Linked DNA regions of Homo sapiens. The protein of the gene in region 2 purifies or fractionates together with the protein of the main gene of each other region. This does not show direct contact. Each region holds a gene or a part of one and is shown on either strand. Other genes may lie near its edges.

Region 1 (7,028 bases), on a different chromosome or scaffold from region 2:
GCACCAAAATCTCACAAATCACCACTAAAGAATTTACTTATGTAACCAAATACCACCTCTTCCCCAATAACCTAGGGAAATAAAATTTTTTGGAAAAAAGAATATGTGGGATTTTTGCATTATTTCTTGTAACTGCATGTGAATCTACAATTTTCTTTTCTTTTCTTCTTTTTTTTTTTTTTTTTTGATGGAGTTTCACTCTTGTTGCCCAGGCTGGAGTGCAATGGCATAATCTTGGCTCACTGCAACCTCTGTCTCCTGGGTTCAAGTGATTCTCCTGCCTCAGCCTCCCGAGTAGCTGGGATTACAGGCGCCCACCACCATGCCCGGCTAATTTTTGTATTTTTTTAGTAGAGACGGGGTTTCGCCATTTGGCCAGGCTGGTCTCGAACTCCTGACTTCAGGTGATCCGCCTGCCTCGGCCTCCCAAAGTGCTGGGATTACAGGCGTGAGCCACCATGCCCGGCTGTGAATCTACAATTTTCTATTTTAAAAACAGTAATGAAAAAAATCCCCAGGTGATTCCATTACGTAGCTAGAGTTAAAAAAAAAAAAAATCAGTAAACTGGAGAATCTCAAATTCCTACCAATTCTGAGACTACAAGCTATTTTAAACTTAAGCCACTGAAAGGTTATTAGGAATGTTTATCATTTACAGGTATAATGTTTTGCAAAGCCAAAAGTAATTAATTTACGGTTAATCCAAAATAAAAAATCCAAAACACTATGTTCTCCCAATAGCATACAAAAAGATTGGATAGAAAGGCATTATACAATAGCTGTAATTTACCTCTTAACAGAGAGAGACAGAGACAAACAGCCGGCCTCTAAGATAGCCCCCAAAGACCCCTGCCTCCTGGTCTTCACATCTTTGTATAATCCCCTCCGATTGAGTATGGGCTGGATTTGGTTATTCACTTACAACAAATAGAATATTGCAAAGTGATGCGACGTTACTTCTGAAATTAAGTTATAAAAACTTTGTGGCTTCCATCGTATGGGCCTTTTCTCTAAGATCCCTCACTCTGGAGGAAACAAGCTACTGTGTTGTCAGCCACTTTATGGAGAGGCCCACATGGCAAGGAACTGATATCTCTGGGCAACAACCAGCCAGTGAAAATCTGGCCTGGTCACAGCCAAATGAGTGAGCTCGGAAGGGGAAGCTTCCCCAGTCAAGCCTTGAGGACTGCTACCCAGGCCAGACACGGTGGCTCATGCCTGTAATCCCAGCACTTTAGGAGGCTAAGGCGGGCAGATCCCTTGAATTAAGGTGTTCAAGAGCAGCCTAGGCAACATGGCAAAACAAAAAAATACTGGTCTCTACCAAAAAACCCACAAAAACAAAAAAATAAGCTGGGGTGTGGTGGTGCACATCTATAGTCCCAACTACTCAGGAGGCTGAGGTAAGAGGATCACTTGGACTCAAGAGGTGAGGGTTGCAATGAGCCGAGATTATGCCATTGCACTCCAGCCTGGGCACCACAGCAAGCCTCTGTCTTTAAAAAAAAAAAAAAAAAAGAGAGAGAGAGAACTGCTACCAAGCCGTCACCTTGGTTGCAGCCTTGTAAGAGACCATAAGCCAGAGGCCCCCAGGTAAGCTGCATCCAGAATTGTGACTCACAGAAACTATGATATAACAGATCCTTGTTTTTTTAAGCCACTAAGTTTTGGGGTAACATAAGGCAAAAGATAACCAATCTACATAGTTACCACAGGTCAACCCCAAAAGAATCTAATGTGATGACTTCTGCTTACCTTTCATCACAGTATTTAATCTCCCAGGTTCTACATTATTATCCAGCATTTATAAGCTCCATTCTACTTTAGCTGATTTCACCATTACCCAAAAACTCTCCTCATTCTCACCTCATTCAGTTCCTTAGAATGACTTCCTCTTTTTTATCCACCCAAATCCTAGCCATCTTTGACAACACCTACAGAGGTCTCTTCCATGAGTATCTATTACTATCCACTTATTTAAATTACTCACTAACCTAACAGCTTTAACTCTAAGAGATTCTCAACTCCTTAAGAATAAGTCTTCTCATATTCCTTTAAACAGGACTTTATATCTATCCAGGACTTTATATCTCTTCCAGCATACTAATAAATTAGAAAACTCAACATTCTATATTAAAAAAATCTAGGACTGGAAGGGAAATCAAGAACTCCAATCTAGAATGTCAGATGTCACTAGTTTAGTTTGTCTATTTGAAAATACTGGCCGGGTGCAGTGGCTCATGCCTGTAATCCCAGCACTTTGGGAGGCCAAGTCGGGTGGATCACCTGAGGTCAGGAGTTCGAGATCAGCCTGGCCAACATGGTGAAACCCCGTCTCTACCAAAAATACAAAATTAGCCGGGCGTAGTGGTGGGCGCCTGTAATCCCAGCTACTCGGGAGGCTGAAGGAGGAGAATCGCTTGAACCCAGCAGGCGAAGGTTGCAGTGAGCCGAGATGGCGCCACTGCACCCCAGCCTGGGCAAGAGAGAAAAGACTCTGTCTCCAAAAAAGAAAAGAAAAGAAAAGAAAATACTGAGTAAAGACCACCTTAGCTGAAGGATAGCATAGCATGAAGGATAGCATCTACGATGACAAACATCTTCCAACCCTATGATTAGCCTAGTAAACGTTGCCTAGGTTCTGGAAATTTTCCCATTATTACCTTTTTTTTGAAGTAGAGTCTCCCTCTGTCACCCAGGCTAGAGTGCAGTGACACTATCTCAGCTCACTGCAACCTCCAATTCCCAGGTTCAAGCAATTCTCCTGCCTCAAGTCTCCCAAGTAGCTGGGATTACAGGCACAGGCCACCACGCCCAGCTAGTGTTTCACCATATTGGCCAGGCTGGTCTCAAACTCCTGACCTCAAGTGATCTGCCTGGCACAGTCCCCAAAGTGCTGGGATTACAGGTGTGAGCCACCGTGACTGGTCCCCTATTATTAGTTTCTTAAACAATTTATCTTCCCTCATTAACCCACCTCTGTAGTAATCTATCACTACACGTAACACATAGAGAAACACTGCTATTAAATTTCAACTACATCAGCAGTTCTCAAACTTTAGCTTGCATCACCATCACCTAGAAGGCTTGTTAAAACAGACAGCCAGACCCCATCCCCAGAGTTTGATTCATAGGACTACTGCCATAGCAATTCAACAAGTCAGTGTAATTTAAACTTACAGCTCAAGGAGATCAGCTGGGAAAATATAAAAGTCCAAAAGAAATAAATCTAAACTATATCAAACACTTTAATAACTTCAAAACACATGTGCCTGCACACATCATGCACAGGCTTGTACACCCTCTTCCTCCTCTCCCAATTAATGAACATAACCACAATATGCACACCTGAATTCAATTTCTTGGAAAAAATGAACATCTCCAATTAACTGAGGTTTTTAAAATGATGTTAAACGAATAAAACACTTAATGTAAAAAAGGACCAACCTAGTATTTCAACTCCCTCATTTTCAGTCCCAGATTAAAAACAAAACAAGGCCGGGCAAGGTGGCTCACTGTGATCCCAGAACTTTGGGAGGCCGAGGCGGGCAGATCACCTGAGGTCGGGAGTTTGAGACCAGCCTGACCAACATGGAGAAACCCCCATCTCTACTAAAAATACAAAATTAGCCAGGCGTGGTGGCATACGCCTGTAATCCTAGCTACTCAGGAGGCTGAGGCAGGAGAATCGCTTGAACCTGGGAGGCAGAGGTTGCAGTGAGCTGAGATCGCGTCATTGCACTCCAGCCTGGGCAACAAGAGAGAAACTCCATCTCAACAACAACAACAAAAAGTGTGGCTGGGCACCGTGGCTCATGCCTATAATCCCAACACTCTGGGAGGCCAAGGTAGGTCGATCATTTGAGGTCAGGAGTTCGAGACCAGCCTGGCCAACATGGTGAAACCTCATCTCTAATAAAATACAAAAAATAGCTGGGTGTGGTGGCGCGTGCCTGTAATCCCAGTTACTTGAGAGGCTGAAGCAGGAGAATCGCTTGAACCCTGGAAGTGGAGGTTGCAGTGAGCCAAGATCAGGCCACTGCACTCCAGCCTGGGTGACACAGTGAGACATGTATAAAAAAAAAAAAAAAAAATTTGAAGGTTCTGAGATATTAACTAGACAGAGTAAAAACCAGGGCTATAACTGACTCCCCAATCAGTAAACAATATGCTAGAATAGTACACTGTTGACCGGGCACGGTGGCTCATGCCTGTAATCCCAGCACTTTGGCAGGCCGAGGTGGGCGGATCACGAGGTCAGGAGATCCAGATCATCCTGGCTAACATGGTGAAACCCCATCTCTACTAAAAAATACAAAAAAATTAGCCAGGCATGGTAGCGGCTGCCTGTAGTCCCAGCTACTCGGGAGGCTGAGGCAGAAGAATGGCGTGAACCCAGGAGGCGGAGCTTGCGGTGAGCCGAGATCGCACCACCGCACTCCAGCCTGGGCAACAAAGCGAGACTCCGTCTCAAACGAAAAAAAAAAAAAGAATAGTACACTGTCTTCCTTAGTTTAGGCTTGCAACCTCAACTTGAGGTTCTTTAATTAAATCTCTTAATTAAATAAGTGAAATACAGCTTTCGAACCAACAGCCAACAGAAAATTTCTTCAGTAAGGCTTAGATATTTTTTTCTTTAAAATGAGTTATTTGGCTGGGCACGGTGGCTCACGCCTGTAATCCCAGCACTTTGGGAGGCCAAGGCAGGCGGATCACGAGGTCAAGAGGTTGAGACCATCTGACCAACATGGTGAAACCCAGTCTCTACTAAAAATACAAAAATTAGTTGGGTGTGGTGGCGCGCACCTGTAGTCCCAGCTTCTCAGGAGGCTGAGGCAGGAGAATCGCTTGAACCCAGGAGGCAGAGGTTGCACTGAGCCAAGATCACGCCACCACTGCTCTCCAGCCTGGCAACAGAGCAAGACTCCGTCTCCAAAAAAAAAAAAAGTTATTTAGCATAACAGATCTTATAAAAGCAAGATACCTATCCACTGTTTTTTATACCTCCTCTGACCACTCACATTCAATAGTCCCAGGTCCATATTCCTCTCGGCACACACTCTAAATATGGTACAGGTTGAGTATTCCTTATCCAAAATACTTGAGACCAGAAGTTTTTCAGATTTGGAATATTTAATTATACTTACAATCAACATCCCTAATCTGAAAATCCGAAATCCAAAATGCTGCAGTGAGCATTTCCTTTGAGCATCACAACGGTGCTCAAAAAGTTTTGGATTTCCAGGCCTACCATTTTGAGAGGCTGAGGTTCAAGGAGCGCTTGAGGCCAGGAGTTTGAGACTGGCCTGGGCAACAGAGCAAGACCCTGTGTCTCTACAAAAAAGAAAAAAAATTAGCTAGGAGTGGTGCCACACACCTATAGTCCTAGCTACTCAGGAGGCTGAGGCGGGAGAATCACTTTAGCTCAGGAAGTTGAGGTTGCAGTGAGCTATGATCTTGCCATTGCACTTCAGTCTGGGCAACAACACAAAGTGATTTCAGAGCATTTCTGATTTTTTGATTAGGTATACCCAATCTGTGCCCCTAAGAGCTGCTGCTCTTCTCACTCTACTCACCCTGCCTGAGTCAAAATCGTGACAGTGGATTAACTATCACTATTCCAGTGGTTTGGTTATCACTAGAAGGCTAAAATACAGAGATGCTAAGGTTTCACCTCAGACTTCATTAATGAGTAAGAATCTCTGGAAGTGGAGTTCAAGGACCTCCATATTCCCTATCCCTATATGCTCCTTAGGCAAGGAGCATATCCTCTGCTTAACATAATGCCTGGCATACTTAGAAAGCACAATCAACATTTGCTGAACACTGTTGTGGAAAAACAAAATGGCAAGTTTAAATACTCCCAACTGCAGAATTGAACAGGGTTCTTTTAATAAATTACCTAGCTACTTATATAGTTACATTAGAAAACTACTTTTTAGGCTGGGCGCGGTGGCTCAAGACTGTAATCCCAGCACTTTGGGAGGCCCAGCTGTGTGGATCACCTGGGTTCAGGAGTTCAAGACCAGCCTGGCCAACATGGTGAAACCCCCTCTCTACTAAAAAATACAAAAAGTAGCTGGGTGTGGTGGTGCACACCTGTAATCCCAGCTACTCGGGAGGCTCAGGCAGGAGAATTGCTTGAACCCAAGAGGCGGAGGTTGCAGTGAGCTGAGATCACGCCACTGCACTCCAACCTGGGCAGCAGAATGAAACTCTGTCTCAAAATAAACAAATAACAAAAAACACCCTGGCCAGGCATGGTGGCTCACACCTGTAATCCCAGCACTTTGGGAGGCCGAGAAGGGCAGATCACTTGAGGCCAGGAGTTCAGTACCAGCATGATGAACATGGGGAAACCCTGTAACACAAGAATTAGCTGGGCCTGGTGGCAGGTGCCTGTAATCCCAGATACTGGGGTAGGGGGGGAAGCTGAGGCAAGGGGAATCTCTTGAACCTGGGAGGGAGAGGTTGCAGTAAGCTGAGATCACGCGACTGCACTACAGCCTGGGTGACAGAGTGAGGCTGTCTCCAAACAAAACAAAATAAAAAACTCTGATTTTTTTTTTCCTTAAAAGCTGAAAAGGTAAGCTAGGTAGCCACAAAGCATTTAAACAAAAGACCAAATTAAATAAAGTTTAATTGTTTAATTTGGTCTTTTATTTAAATGTTAATTGGGAAATTATAGAAAGCCAGAAAACCAAGTTTTCTGAAAGAAAATAATGTTGACTTATTTGAAGACCAAACCTAACCTGCAAATATCCACAAATAACAGTATTTATGTTGTTGCCCAGAACTCCTCTCCCAGAAAAAGTAATCAAATTCCCAAGGAAATATTAAATTAATTTGGTTATCTTTTTACATTTCAAACTTTTTCACCTGCAAATGTATCTTACCTGATTTCACACTGAAAATTAGAACTGAGAACAGGGAATTTAAATGTTTAAGAGTTAACAGTAAGCTCTCTAATGCAAACTAAGTAAAATTCAGTGTTTATCAAACCAACATTAAAAACCTAGATAACTGCT
Region 2 (6,990 bases):
AAAAATGTGTCTTAGAGATCACTTCATGTTGGTACATATGGATCTATTGGGGCTGAGAGTCAAATGATACACACTGCTATATCTGTACAAATTGTTCACGACTACCTGCTTGGGCAATGCCTGTACCATACTGTTTGTTAAATATGTGGACTATCTTACCTAAACCTATCTTTATCTGATGTATTAACTTACAACATGGATATGCTATATACAAAAACAAACTCCAGTTGGTTTAAGCAACCAGATGTAAAACCAAAACTCTAAGCACATTTTTAATTCCTTTACTCTCATTTTTCCAAAATAAAAAGGTTTTTTTCTTATCATACAAAGAATGCATGCTCATTCTATTAAATGGTCAGCTACTCCGAAGAGGAAATCACTTGAAACCCAGCCACAGAAAATAATAGTATTTTAATGGACCTTCTTCTAGGTATCTCTTGATGCATATAAACATAAATACGTACATAAGTGTACATATATTATGCATACATATTAAACTAATCCAAATTCTTCAGGACACAGTCATATTCTCTTCACAGAGTTCCCATAACCTAAGAATACAATTTACCCAGAATTATTTTACTGAGTTTGACAGACACCCAGGCTCCATGTTGCCTTTTGATTGCCAGTGACAATGTCAGCTGCAATAACTTAAGCTCTTGTTCTAAACATGGCCAGAAGCCCATTCCATATTCTCTGAGGAAATACCTAATCACATTTGCAATGGGTTTTCCAATAATTTACTACCCATATTCCTTGATCCAACCACTACACCATTAAGGCATCATACTGAGCAGTTCAATAAGTGGTTTAAAGATGTGCTACCAGATGACTGTAGAGTCTTCAGTTCAGGTACTCTGATAAGAACTTAGTGCACTCTAGGACCTGTCCCATAACCAATTATTCCATAGCCGTTTTCACAGTGGGCCACCCTCACTGATTTGAGTAAAATGGTATCCATTTCTGTGTGGTCCTGCATTTTCTGCTGGGTCCACATTTAGTGGACATTGGTGGGTCCCACCATAGGTCTGCCATCACTTCTGATGGTAGTCTCACAACCACCACCATCCTGGGCTCTCTAGTTAGAGTTAACTTACCAAGAGACAGGTTGTTAGGAGCACAAGCAATACTGGCTTTTCTCCTGGGGGCTCTTCTCTTGAGGAAAGGCAGGAATTTGAGGCACTGAGGGAGGAAAAAGAGCCACTCATAAATTGCCAGCCTACTTCCTACACCTTCTAGATTCAGGGTAACTCAAGAACATCCCATCTCTAACCAAATGACCATTTTAAGTTCAAATGAAAGAATATCGTTATTATCCTAGAGGAGTATCTCCAGTGACAAAAATTAGTGAGTTGGCAGACTTCAGAGAGATGTGACAATGTACAAAGAGGGCAGGTCCTTCCTAGGACTAAGCATCTGGGCGTAAAAATTTCTTTATACGACATCAGGTTGGAGCCCAATGGCTCCCCTAAGTCTACTGGAAAAGCCATTGATTTCAAAAGTCAAATGCTGCAGGGCTACAATAGAGGGCAGTAGGACCAGTAATGGACTCAGTCAAGAGGTGTGGATTCTAGTCTCAGCTCTGCCACCAATTTGTTCAATGACCTAACACAGGTCACTCAGTCTCATCCATTTCTTATTTGTTAAATGAAATTGAAAAGCTAGATAATATTTAAAGCTTCTTGTAATATCAACATTCTACAAAGCTTTGATTCTATATACAGATGGGAAAAGAGCAAAAACCTCAAATCAAGCCCTTCCAGTCCATCTTTGATTGAATCTGTTTATTCATTTATTTGAAAAGTACTAAATGAGCTAGCCGTGAGGTGAATGGGTCTTGTTAAGAACGGGCTGAATCAACAGCAGGGAAACTTCCTGTCAGTTATCCTCCTACAATTAGAATTGGGGGAATTTCTCGAAAATAACAAGAGGATTGCCTTTGTGTAAGGAGTATCTGCTGTAAGATGTTAAGGACTCTTCATAAGGGAAAGGTTTCAAGAACCCTCCTAATGCAAAGAACACTGTATTCAAAGGCAGGAACCTGGTTTCCTGTCTAATACATCCCAATCCACTAGCATCTCTTAACTGACACTGAACAAACTGTTTAATTATTTTCAAACGTCTCTTTTATTTCCTCATTTGGTCAAATAAGCCAGCAATTATTTTCAAGCTTGCAGTCAACCTTTAATATTTAGCTCAAATGTGAAACTTCACACCTCTTCCTTGTGGGAAAATTTTGACTTTTCCAAGGCCCTTCCTCGTCTACATTCTCAAAGAATTTTACAAGTTTCTACTGTAGGACTTTCTAGTCTGATTACATTCTGTCTTCCACCAGCAAACTTACAAGTATGGCATGGGCTCCAGGACTAGGACTTTTGAACAAGTTACCTAACCTTTTTTTGCTCCAGTTTTTTCAACTGTTAAATGGAGACGATACCAGTAACTACTTTATAGGGTTGTCGTAATGAATAAGTGGGTTACTACATGGCAACTACTTAGAAGAATGCCAGCTGGTAAGCATTCAATAAATAGTGCCTGCTGTTAAAGTATTGAGTCTACATGTCTTCATACGGTACCTATTTTGTTGTTGTTAGAGAAGAATAAATAATGAAGGGAAGGCACTAATTCTTGCATATACTTACTTCAACCCGCACAACTTTGGGAAACGGCAAGGCAGGAAACAGTATTTACTTCTGGAAATCAGAAAACTAAAGTGCCCAGAAGTTCACTGACATGCTTAAGTATGTATAAATCGAACCCAGGTCCTCCGACTCCCAGCCTAGGGCTCTCGAACAGCCTCTCCTTTCTTCATGGCAAGTTTGCCCTAGGCCTCGGGCCTCCGCTCCACAGGCCCTCCAGGAAGAAAAACGCCCTGCTTCCCGAGGGAGGAGCTGGAATCGACCCGCGGCAGCCGGGCACAGCAGAAACCGCTCACCATGCGCTTCCCGCGGCGCTCCCCGCGGCGCTCCCCTCTCGCACCTTGCAACACTCAGGTCCCTGGGTGCTGCCCTGCGGAAAGGAGTAAGTCCCGGACGCGCCCAGCCGGCGTGACGTCAGCAGTCCGCGCCTCGGCTAATAACCACTACCGTCTCCTCTCTAGGAAGGTGGGAGCGGCTTCCGCTCGGTGGTTCCTTCCCGCACGCAGCTACGGGTTTCGGTGCTGCGCCGGTTAAGCCGGCACCAGAAACAACCTGCGACCCCACCTGGCGTGCGTCTTCCAGCACAGGGAAACGGGATGGAAGTCAGAAGGGTCGACCACAAGGAGCTCTTACTGTGCATCAGTTCATCCTGCAAGTCCGCCACATTTAGCTTCCTATGTTACTGTCCTTTGGGGATTCTCAAGGCTTTTCACAAAACTGGCTTCCACCTTCCTCACACACATCCTCATCTGGAAGAAAACTGACCTCTTCACAGAAACCCCTGACACCTTACTGACCCAGGATCTTTGTTCAGGTGGCCAAAAGAAAAAGTTCTGCAGGCCAGGCGCGGTGGCTCACTCCTGTAATCCCAGCACTTTGGGAGGCCGAGGCGGGCGGATCACCTGAGGTCAGGAGTTCAAGACCAGCCTGCCCAACATGGAGAAACCCTGTCTCTACTAAAAATACAAAAATCAGCCGGGTGTGCTGGTGGGCGCCTGTAATTCCAGCTACTCCGGAGGCTGAGGCGCGAGAATCACTTGAACCTGGGAGGGGGAGGTTGCAGTGAGCAGAGACTGAGCCACTGCACTCCAGCTTGGGTGATAGAGTGAGACTCTGTCTCAAAAACAAAACAAAACAAATCAAACACTGCTTTGGGCTCAAATCCCTGATTCTCAGTGTATGAACTTTGCAACTTTACCTCTCTGTGCCTGCTTCCTCACTTACCAGGTATAATAATGGTACCACAGGGTTGTTGTGAGGATTAAGTGAGGTTAATACGTGTGAATTACTAAGAACATCTAGTATTTTTTAAATCTTCAGTAAATGTTAGGACTATTGTCTGTGTCTCAAATCCCAGCTCCAGTACCTATTGTTCTGCCCTGACTTCACTGACCTTTCAGGGCCTCAAGGTAGCACACCCATCCCTTTCTACAAAACTTCAGATCTTGCTGGCTCTAACTCAGGAAATATTTGCACACATGGGCTCATCTTGACAGGTAAAGTCCAGAGATAAAGGCATGAGTGGAGAGTACCTTATTCACTTCCAAGCATTCCTACTGATCTGCAATCTCAGGACAATAGGGCTGTGTGCACACCATCATATCCCTAGTGTGCAGCATATAGAAGTGAACACTTGCTGTATAAATTAATGAGATGCAGCAGAGAAATTATCCATTCCAGGCCAGGCATGGTGGCTCACACCTGTAATCCCAGCACTTTGGGAGGCCATGGGGGGCGGATCACGAGGTCAGGAGTTTGAGACCAGCCTGACCAACATGGCGAAACCCCGTCTCTACTAAAGATACAAAAATTAGCCGGGCGTGGTGGTGTGCCCCTGTAATCCCAGCTACTCAGGAGGGTGAGGCAGGAGAATCACTTGAACCTGGGAGGCGGACTTGCAGTGAGCCGAGATCATGCCACTGCACTCCAGCCTGGGTGACAGAGCCAGACTCCATCTTAAAAAAAAAAAAAAATATCCATTCCAATCTTCAGATTGGCTGTTTTCCCAAAATGGAGTCCCTTTTGGACACAAATCAGGAATGCTGGTGCCACAGACTGAGGCCATCGCTATCTTTGGCTAAAAAGTGACCCTTTGTAAAATTGTCAGTTGACATGCCATGTAACAATAATGTTAAGTTTCCCTCTCCAGGTGTCACATTCTCAGCACTTCTTTGGAATCAGATAGCAAGTTCTTCCCTCCAGCCCTAACATCTCACAGGCCAGAGACCCTAGGTCTAATTATTCATTCCCCAAACATTAGGCTTCAAAGAGTCTCCAAATCAGCAGGGTGTAGTGTGTGGAGGACATTAAGTCTGGAGGGAGGCACCTGAGGTTACTAGAAACCGTAATCTGGAGTTTAATAGCAGTTTGGGCTGAGCTTCTTTCAATGAGGTGGAAAACGGATGGTAGGGATGGACACCAAAAACGTTCCAAAACACTAAAATAACCTTAGCCCTGATGTGGCCACTGGATAAATGAAACTAATGCCACATATCGTCAAGATTAGGTTTCTACCTTATGTAGAAAGTAGGGGTCAAAAGGTATCATCAACTTACTTGTCACCCTCACACTCAGGAAAGTCTGAGATTTTGAGAACAAAAAGCTTCTCAATCTTATACAAGTGAGCTCCTCACATCCTCAGGATAAGGAAAAGATTGGAGCACTAAGTGGTCAATTCTAGGCTGGATGCAGTGGCTCAGGCCTGTAAGGGAGTCCGAGTTAGGAGGATCATCTGAGGGCAGGAGTTAGAGATGAGCCTGGGTAACATAGCAAGAATCTGTCTGTACCAAAAAATAATATTAAAAAACTTTTTTTTGAGACAGACTCTCACTCTGTCACCCAGGCTGGAGTGCAGTGGCATGATCTTGGCTCACTGCAACCTCTGCCTCCTGGGTTCAAGCAATTCTCCTGCCTCAGTCTCCTTAGTAGCTGGGATTACAGGCACGCGCCACCATGCCTGGCTAATTTTCATATTTTTAGTAGAGACGGGGTTTCACCATGTTGGTCAGGCTGGTCTCAAACTCCTGACCTTGTGATCCGCCTGCCTTGGCCTCCCAAAGTGCTGGGATTACAGGCGTGAGCCACCGCACCCGGCCAGAGAATACTTTTTAAAAATTAGCCAGGCATGGTAGCTCACGCCTGTAGTCCCAACTGCTTGGGAGGCTGAGGTGAGAGAATCGCTTGAGCCTGGGAGGTCTAGGCTACAGTGAGCTAGGATCACGCTACTGCACTCCAGCCTGGGCAACAGACCGAAACCATCTCAGAAACAAAAAAAAGTAGTCAGTTCTATAAAAAATAAAGAGGCATATGGAATAGAGGTATGACCAATACAGGGAAAAGTAAATGAAATGCAAGGACACTGCAGTTTAAACCTCATCTGACACTGGTTGTGTGGTCTTGAGCAACCCCAACATCTTTTCTCTTTTGTTCTGAGGATCTGACGTGGCTCCATCTGTGTCCTTCTAAAGTCATGAATTAAATTTCAGTGCACAATAAGCAAGACACTCAAATTCTTTATCATCCCAGGGCCCAAAATCTCAGGAAGTGCTTCCACTTTGGTACTTTTTTTTTTTTTTTTTTTTTTTTTTTTTTTTTTTTTAAGAGAGAGGGTCTCACTCTCTGATACGCAGGCTAGAGTGCAGTGGCATGATGCTAGCTCACTGCAGCTCCCAACACCTGGGCTCAAGCGATCCTTCCACCTCAGGCTCAGCATCCAGAATAGCTAGGACTACAGGCATGCACCACCATACCTGGTTTATTTATTTATTTATTTATTTATTTATTTATTTTTTTTAGACAAGGTCTTGTTATGTTCCACAGGATGCTCTTGAACTCCTGGCCTGAATCAATCCTCCCACCTCAGACTCCTGAGTAGTTGGGATTACAGGTGCAAGCCACCATGCCTGGCCCAGTTTGGGATTTGTAAACTGCAAATGCCCTCCTGCTAGGCCAGCATTACTCTTCAGTTCCTGCTATTTCATAGGTATTCCAGTTGACACAGGTGTGTTTCTGCAGTTGCATGCATTTTCCTCCTGTTGACCCTGACATCAATATAATTGAAAGCGTTTAGTTAAATTGTGATAGGACTTTTAAATCTCTAATTGAAAAATATTGTTTCTTATGGGATCTTCTGTTTAATACAATCTTAGGGAAAGTTTCAGAACTGTTGCTCCTGGCAGACACTTCGTGGACACGCATACTCACCATGCCTCCTTCCTGCTGACAACTGGGGACTTAAGTCACAACCTGCAGACTAGCACAGAGAAATGTCTGACTCTTCAGTTGAGTTCAACAAATGCTTATTGAGCACCTCCTAAGTACCAGGCACTGTTGATACAAAGGTAAAGAAATT
Region 3 (7,028 bases), about 35 Mb from region 2:
GTTAATGCGGTTTGAAAATATTTGAGATTTGTGGTTGTGGGAGTTTACATAATCTGATATATTTGAAAATTGCAAAATAAAATGCTATTTCCGGCCGGGCATGGTGGCTCACACCTGAAATCCCAGCACTTTGGGAAGCTGAGGCAGGAGGATTTCTTGAGCCCAGGAGTTTGAGACCAGCCTGGGAACATGGTGAAAGCCCATCTCTACAAAAACACAAAAATCAGCTGGGTGTGATGGTGTGCACCTGAGTCTCAGCTACTCGAGAGGCTGAGGTGGGAGAATGGCTTAAGACAGGGAGGCAGAGGTTGCAGGGAGCTGAGATTACACCACTGCACTCCAGCCTGGCTGACAGAGCAAGACCCCAGGTCAAAAAAATAATAGTAAAATGCAATTTCCTTTGTATGATAGGCTTTTGAATGGTAACCACCATATCACTGGAAGGATTTTGTAATTATAAATAAAAAACCTGTCAGCAGAACATAAATACCAAGCTGTCACATGTCATTTGTGGAATGAGGTGACGTGACCCTAGGCCTGAACAATGTTCTATGCAGATTAACAGAAGGTTTCTGACACGAAAGCCGGGAAAGGTCTGCCTCTGCTTAGGGGTGAGTAGCAAACACCTTTGTGTTCCTTTGTGAACAGTAACATACTTCTCATCCATGAGTGCAGTGTTTCATAACTTTTTCTTTTGCCCAGACACTTGAGGGTGATAACATACCCTGTCTACAATCCTACGATGACATCAAACAAAAGGGAAGTTGAAGTATCCCAGAATTTTGGGTGGGTGGGGATGTAGAGGGGACCTAGAGTTTGAGGAAGGCTCTCAGTGATTCCGATTCCCAAATATTCTTTTTTTTTTTTCCTAAACCTATTTGGATTTTCAGCATTGGAAAGAATTGGGTTTTATAGCATAACACTTCTAAATTAAAAAAAAAAATTATTCTAGATCAAGTATTTTATACTTTGGTGAACAAATCTTTATATATACCTTGTCAATTTATTCATAATTTTATTCATTTTGATCATATATCGGCTTAGGTTTTTCTACATTGACATCTGCATGTCTACTCTTACATGGAAATGGCTCAAACTTCATGTTTTAATTTTTTTCGGCCTTTATTTTTACTCGGAGCTCTGTTGTGTATTTCTTGACATGCGGTGACCTTACCTGCTATTTCATACACATATCATGATTTCATACTAGAAAACAACACTCTGCTTTCTTCCCAGAATCCTTCTTGGCCACAAGAAGGACTGGGTTTTTACTGTGCAGTCTCTTTAAGCCACAGTAATTTCTCTAGCTTTCACGGAACACAGTCACATGTAGACTTCTATGATTTCAGTCTTGGATTTTAACTCCCAGAACAGATACCATTTTCTAATTACAGTTTGGATTATTTCTCCCCTTGTGGGCTTGCTTTGGACTTGCTCATCTGTCCAGTTTCTACCCAATCATATAATCTGCTGTGTCTCCCTGCAGTTTATTCAAATTGGCTGTCAGTATACTATATGGAAGAACTACTATGTTTCACACAAACTTCAGTGATTTTACTGGGAGCTCCCTCTTCTAAATTCTTTAAAAACATATAGATGATACTGATTATTCAAGGGGAATCTACTGTGAAATATTCTCCATTTAGAAAATGCCTTTCCATTTCTTGCTTTGCTTTACACAGTTTTTATGAGTCCTCTCAATATCATGGTAATTTTGAAAACTAAGAGCATTTGGTATTAAGCTTGTTAGACTTCCTAAAAAATCCAAGTAATGTTCATAAGTTTCCCCTTTTTACAACTATACTTATTCCCTCTAGGAACTTAAGTGGATTACAGAGAAGAAAATTGCCTTCCTCCAGTTTATGCTTATGCCTTCAATTATCTTTTCCCATTCAAGTCTACCAGCTTGTCTGTTACACAAAGAGGACTCATCGGCAGTTTGTAATTCTCAGCTTCCTCTGTAATCTAGTGAATAGATGTCACTAACAATGTATCTAGGCCAGTGGCACATGGCTCTTTGAAATAAGTAGTTACATTCTTTACAAAAAAGTTCCACTTTCTATTGTTAATTGTTTTAAAACTCTTGGGTCCACTGATCCAACCATGGAGATTTCATTATGTCTAATTTGCCCATTAGGTCTAGAATATTCTGGATGTATCACTCTTATCTAAAAGCTAAAGAAATATGATTACCTCTATTGGTATTGCCCCAGTTCCACACATTGGATCGACTATTATATCATAAGGTAGAGGATCACAGAGCCTAGAGAAAAGAAAACAGCCTATGTGAAGACTCACTCAAAAGCTGAGGCTTCTATACTGATGATTCCTGAAGCTTTAAGATTGAGGACCTACCACACTAGCCCGAAGGAACACCAATCTACACATATTTTAGAAATCAATTTGTGGCCGCGCACGGTGACTCACGCCTGTAATCCCAGCACTTTGGGAGGCTGAGATGGGTGGATCGCTTGAGGTCAGGAATTCAAGACCAGCCTGGCCAACATGGCGAAACCCCGTCTCCACTAAAAATACAAAAAATTAGCTGGGCGTGGTGGTGGGTGCCTGTAATCCCAGCTAGTACAAAGGCTGAGACTCGAGAATTGCTTGAACCCAGAAGGCGGGGATTGCAGTGAGCCAAGATCATGTAAGATGCAGCCTGGGTGACAGAGCAAGACTCCGTCTCAAAAATAAATAAATAAATAAATAAAATCAATTTATAATGATATGTTGACTGTATATTCCATTACTTGGGGAAAAAAAATCCTTATAACTAAATCTCCTTTGACTATCTTCCAAAATCCCATTTCACTCTCAGATGAAATTTAGTTTGCAGACATCTTAAAGTACACATGTGTACACACACACACACACACACGCTCATGCATACTTTTTGACAACAGTGTTGTTTTCAACAGAAACCTGTATTACATTAAAAAGACTCAAAAATGTCTCAAGTCAAACATGCATCAATATAAGGTTACTGGCAATGAGACATTCAGTATTCCTTTCCTTCTGAATTTAAAGCTAATCTTGATATAAAAAAATTGCTCTGTGGGACTAGGTAATAAAAAAAGGAAAAAAAAATGCTTTACTTTGAGCACTTAGTATTTCCTGGGCATGGACTTAAGCTCTTTCCATGCATTATCTCACAGAATCCTCAGTAAGGACCCTGTTAGATAATTATCATTATTCTCATTTTAAAGGTAAGCTGATGCAAGGAAACATGAAGTTACCTGCCCAGGGACACAAAACTAGTAGGTAACAGATTCAAGATTAGAGGCATTACTGTTAGTGGCTTAACTGTTATCCTCTTTATGAAGCATCCCACCCTGAAACAGGTCAGTAGGTTTCTTCCCTTCTCTTGTTCTTCTAATCTTTTCATGTGCTGGTGTGGGACTTATCGCATGTATGATAACTATTTATCTCCCTCACAAGACAGATTCTTGGGGGTTAATAGTGGGTTCTTATTGTAACATTGGTCCTGCTCTATCTCCTTGCTCCTACTCCTCAACACATGGCAATAGAATCCTTGGCAACCCTCTTGAGGGGGTAAGCACCCTGTACTCCAAGCCATTCCTGATGGTCAGGGGTGAATATCTGACCAAAACAATGTCCATCAGATCCTCTCTTCCAGGAATTTGGAACAAAGAGCTAAAAGCCCTAGGCAGTGTGGGTTGGTCGTTTGGAATTGGAAATACATAAATTTAGATGAGAAAGCATGTAGATGAGAAGAGACAAGAGTCCACAGGCTCTAAGGGGAGATAAAAATGGCTGCCTACATTTCTGGTGGTTTTCCAAGATGTGGTTCCTACCCTTCTTGAGAACCAACATTCAGTTTTTCTGTAGAATCCCCAAGATTTCTCTTTATCTTTCCAATAAACCCCTCTCTGGCACAATTATCACTTTTTTATCCTAAACTTGATTACTTAGGTTTTAAATATTTGCACCCAAAATAACACCCTCTCTGTATCCCTGGTTTCTACCATATGCCTGGCAGTAGATAATGCATATTTGTTAAATTAATGAAGACTAGAAGATTTTCCTTTATCAAATGGGCCCAATTTTCTATTATCGTCATTGAATTAATATGTTAGGAAGATAAAAGATTGGAAGAGAAGGAATACAGTCGTGTACTGCATGACAATCTTCCAATCAATGGTGGACCAAATATATGAATGCAGTAATTATAATACCATATTTTGCCCTATCCTTTCTATGTTTAGATACACAAATACCACTGCGTTACAACTGACTACAATATTCAGTACAATAACATGCTGTACAGGTTTGTAGCCTAGGAGCAATAGGAGATACCACATAGCCCAGGTGTGTAGTAGGCTACACCATCTAGATTTGTGTAGGTACACTCCATGAGGTTCGCACAATGATGAAATTGCGTGATGACACATTTTTCAGAATGTATCCCTGTCATTAAGTGATGCATGACTGGACTTAACTACCAGGACATACCAGGCACTGTATATAATAGGTATTTTGCATATGCTTCAGCATTTAATCCTCACTAATAATCCTTTAAGTCTCACATCAAATCCATTTTGCCATCTGGAAAACAGAAGCTTTAGAGAAAATAAACATTTTCAAGTGGTGGAAAGAAGCACCCAATAAAAGAGAGAAGGGCAAAGGAGAAGGAAAGATAGGTCGTGTACTCTGAAAAGCAAAAAATTCTAGGATGATTCCTGAGTTGCTGTGAGTATAAAGCTTAAAAATATAAGTAAAAGCTCTTTCTGTTCATTTACACGTTATACACATAAAAATCTCTGCTTTCATCTTTTTCACTGCACAGAAATGAAACAGCAAAATTTACTCTTATCTCCCAACACACATATCCTTGCTAAACAGAAATGTGGTAACCTCATTCAAGAGGCAGGTGAAAACTATTACTCTCATTTTAAAATCAAGAAAACCGGGCGCGGTGGCTTACACCTGTAATCCCAGCACTTTGGGAGGCCGAGGCGGGTGGATCACCTGAGGTCAGGTATTTGAGACCAGCCTCGCCAACATAGTGAAATGTCGTCTCTATTAAAAAAATACAAAAATTATCTGGGCGTGGTGGCAGGCACCTGTAATCCCAGCTATTCGGCTGAGACAGGAGAATCGCTTGAACCCGGGAGGCAGAGGTTACAGTGAGCTGAGATCTCGCCACTGCAGTCCAGTCTGGGCGACAGAGTGAGACTTTGTCTCAAAAAAAGAAATAAAGAAAACTGAGCCACCTATTAAGCAGTATTTTCAGATCACAAGGAGTCAATATTGGATAGAAGGGAAAGAAATAGATCATTAGCTTTCCATTCTATTCTTTATCCACTCTATTCCAACACAGTACCTCAAACACACATACACACAAATCAGTATTTTGAAGGGAACATTCAAACCAAGGTGCCACTTTAAGCTGGATGGCAAACTCATTTTCTTACCTGAGCATCCCATAGGCAAGAGTTGATCTAAGAGTTGTAGGTCCAAAATGTGTTATATTTCTTCGGTGGAGACTCTCTTCAGTCAATGCAATGCCCACAATGACTTCATTATCATGGATGTTCAAAAGAACCTATAGCAAAGTGGAACAAGACAAAATAGTTTTAGGATTGTTCAAACTGCGCTTAGTAATAAGACTTTTCTGACCTGGGCCGGTTCACCCCTCCTTAGGCAACCTGTTGGTCCCCTACTCCTGGGAGGTCACCATATTGATGCCAAACTTAGTGCAGACACCTGATTGGCATAGCGCACCACAGCCCAGAACTGTCTAAAAAGTTAAGACATTTAAAAAATACATATTAAAAAACCTCTAAGCCTTCAAAATATGTTTGTGTTATAAAAATTGGGGTGAAATCTGGTTGTAGCCAATAAACATAGTGAATTAAAAGAAAATAATAGATATTAAAATGAACGAAAAAAACTATATACTATATGATTTCATTTATATGAAGTTCAAAAATTGGCAAAACGAATTTTTGGTGGTAGCAGTCAGATTAGTGATTGCCTTGAGTGGGTACTGACTGGGAAAGGGCAAGGGGAGCCCGAGGTACTGGAAATAGTTTGTATCTCTATCTGGATGCTGTTTACACATCGTGTATATAAGTAAAAACTTACTGAAAACTTAAGATTTGTGTACTTAAGGGGTGCAAAGTGTATCTCAACAAAAAAGTTTTAAAAATTGGTAAAGTCTCAAATAAAAAGTCTTATTACACTGAGTGCAGTGGCACAGGCCCACAGTCCCAGCTACTCGGGAGGCTGAGGTGGGAGGACAGCCTGAGCCTGGGAGGTCAAGGCTTTAGTGAGCCATGATTGCACCACTGCACTCCAGTCTGGGTGATACAGCGAGACCCTGTCTCAAAAGTGAACTAAACTAAACCAAAATGTTCCCCAATCTTTCACTGAAAGACTTCCTGAGCTTAACCACAGCAGAAGCACAGCTGATACTCATACAGCACTTCCTAATGCAAAGCACTATTCTACACATTTTACATACATGGCCTCATCTCATATTCACATCCCCTAAGCTAGGTATTATTCCCTTTATAAATGAGGATACTGAGGCACAAAGACAGCTCCTCAGGAATTCCCTTTTTGAGACAGGGTCTCACTCTGTCGCCCAGGATTGAGTGCAGTGGCATGATCACAGATCACTGTGGCCTGGACTTCCTGGGCTCAAGCAATCTCTTACTTCAGCCTCCCAAGTACCTGGGACTATAGGTGTCTGTCATCATACTCAGCTAATTTTTTTTTTATTTTTTGTAGAGACAGGGTCTCCCTATGTCGCCTAGGCTGGTCTAGAACTCCTGGCCTGAAACAATCCTCCAATCTTGACCTCCCAAAGTGCTGGGATTACAGGTGTGTGTCACCACACCCAGCCTCCTCTGGGATTTAAACCAATGCAGCACGGCTCCAGAAACTCCTCTGAATCACCTTGCTAACTTTTAGACATCACTGTTCTGGTTAACCTATTCATTTTATTTTTTAAAATATTTATTTTATTTTTAGTGGAGACAGGGTCTCACTATTTTGCCCAG

What was found.
Region 1: the proteins of ZNF501 (region 2) and ARIH1 purify together in Homo sapiens (affinity purification with mass spectrometry; 3 studies listed by BioGRID and IntAct, with this or other methods). This does not show direct contact.
Region 3: the proteins of ZNF501 (region 2) and THUMPD3 purify together in Homo sapiens (affinity purification with mass spectrometry; 3 studies listed by BioGRID and IntAct, with this or other methods). This does not show direct contact.

What each region holds. Positions count from the first base shown.
Region 1 is NC_000015.10:72,477,330-72,484,357, reverse strand, and holds part of ARIH1 (E3 ubiquitin-protein ligase ARIH1), read right to left. Parts: intron 1-7,028. UniProt on the Homo sapiens protein: E3 ubiquitin-protein ligase, which catalyzes ubiquitination of target proteins together with ubiquitin-conjugating enzyme E2 UBE2L3.
Region 2 is NC_000003.12:44,725,668-44,732,657, reverse strand, and holds the start of ZNF501 (zinc finger protein 501), read right to left. Parts: upstream 3,024-6,990; 5' UTR 2,643-3,023; intron 1,183-2,642; 5' UTR 1,098-1,182; intron 1-1,097. UniProt on the Homo sapiens protein: May be involved in transcriptional regulation. Essential for Golgi structural integrity.
Region 3 is NC_000003.12:9,373,054-9,380,081, reverse strand, and holds part of THUMPD3 (tRNA (guanine(6)-N(2))-methyltransferase THUMP3), read right to left. Parts: intron 5,567-7,028; coding exon 5,436-5,566; intron 2,264-5,435; coding exon 2,194-2,263; intron 1-2,193. UniProt on the Homo sapiens protein: Catalytic subunit of the THUMPD3-TRM112 methyltransferase complex, that specifically mediates the S-adenosyl-L-methionine-dependent N(2)-methylation of guanosine nucleotide at position 6 (m2G6) in tRNAs.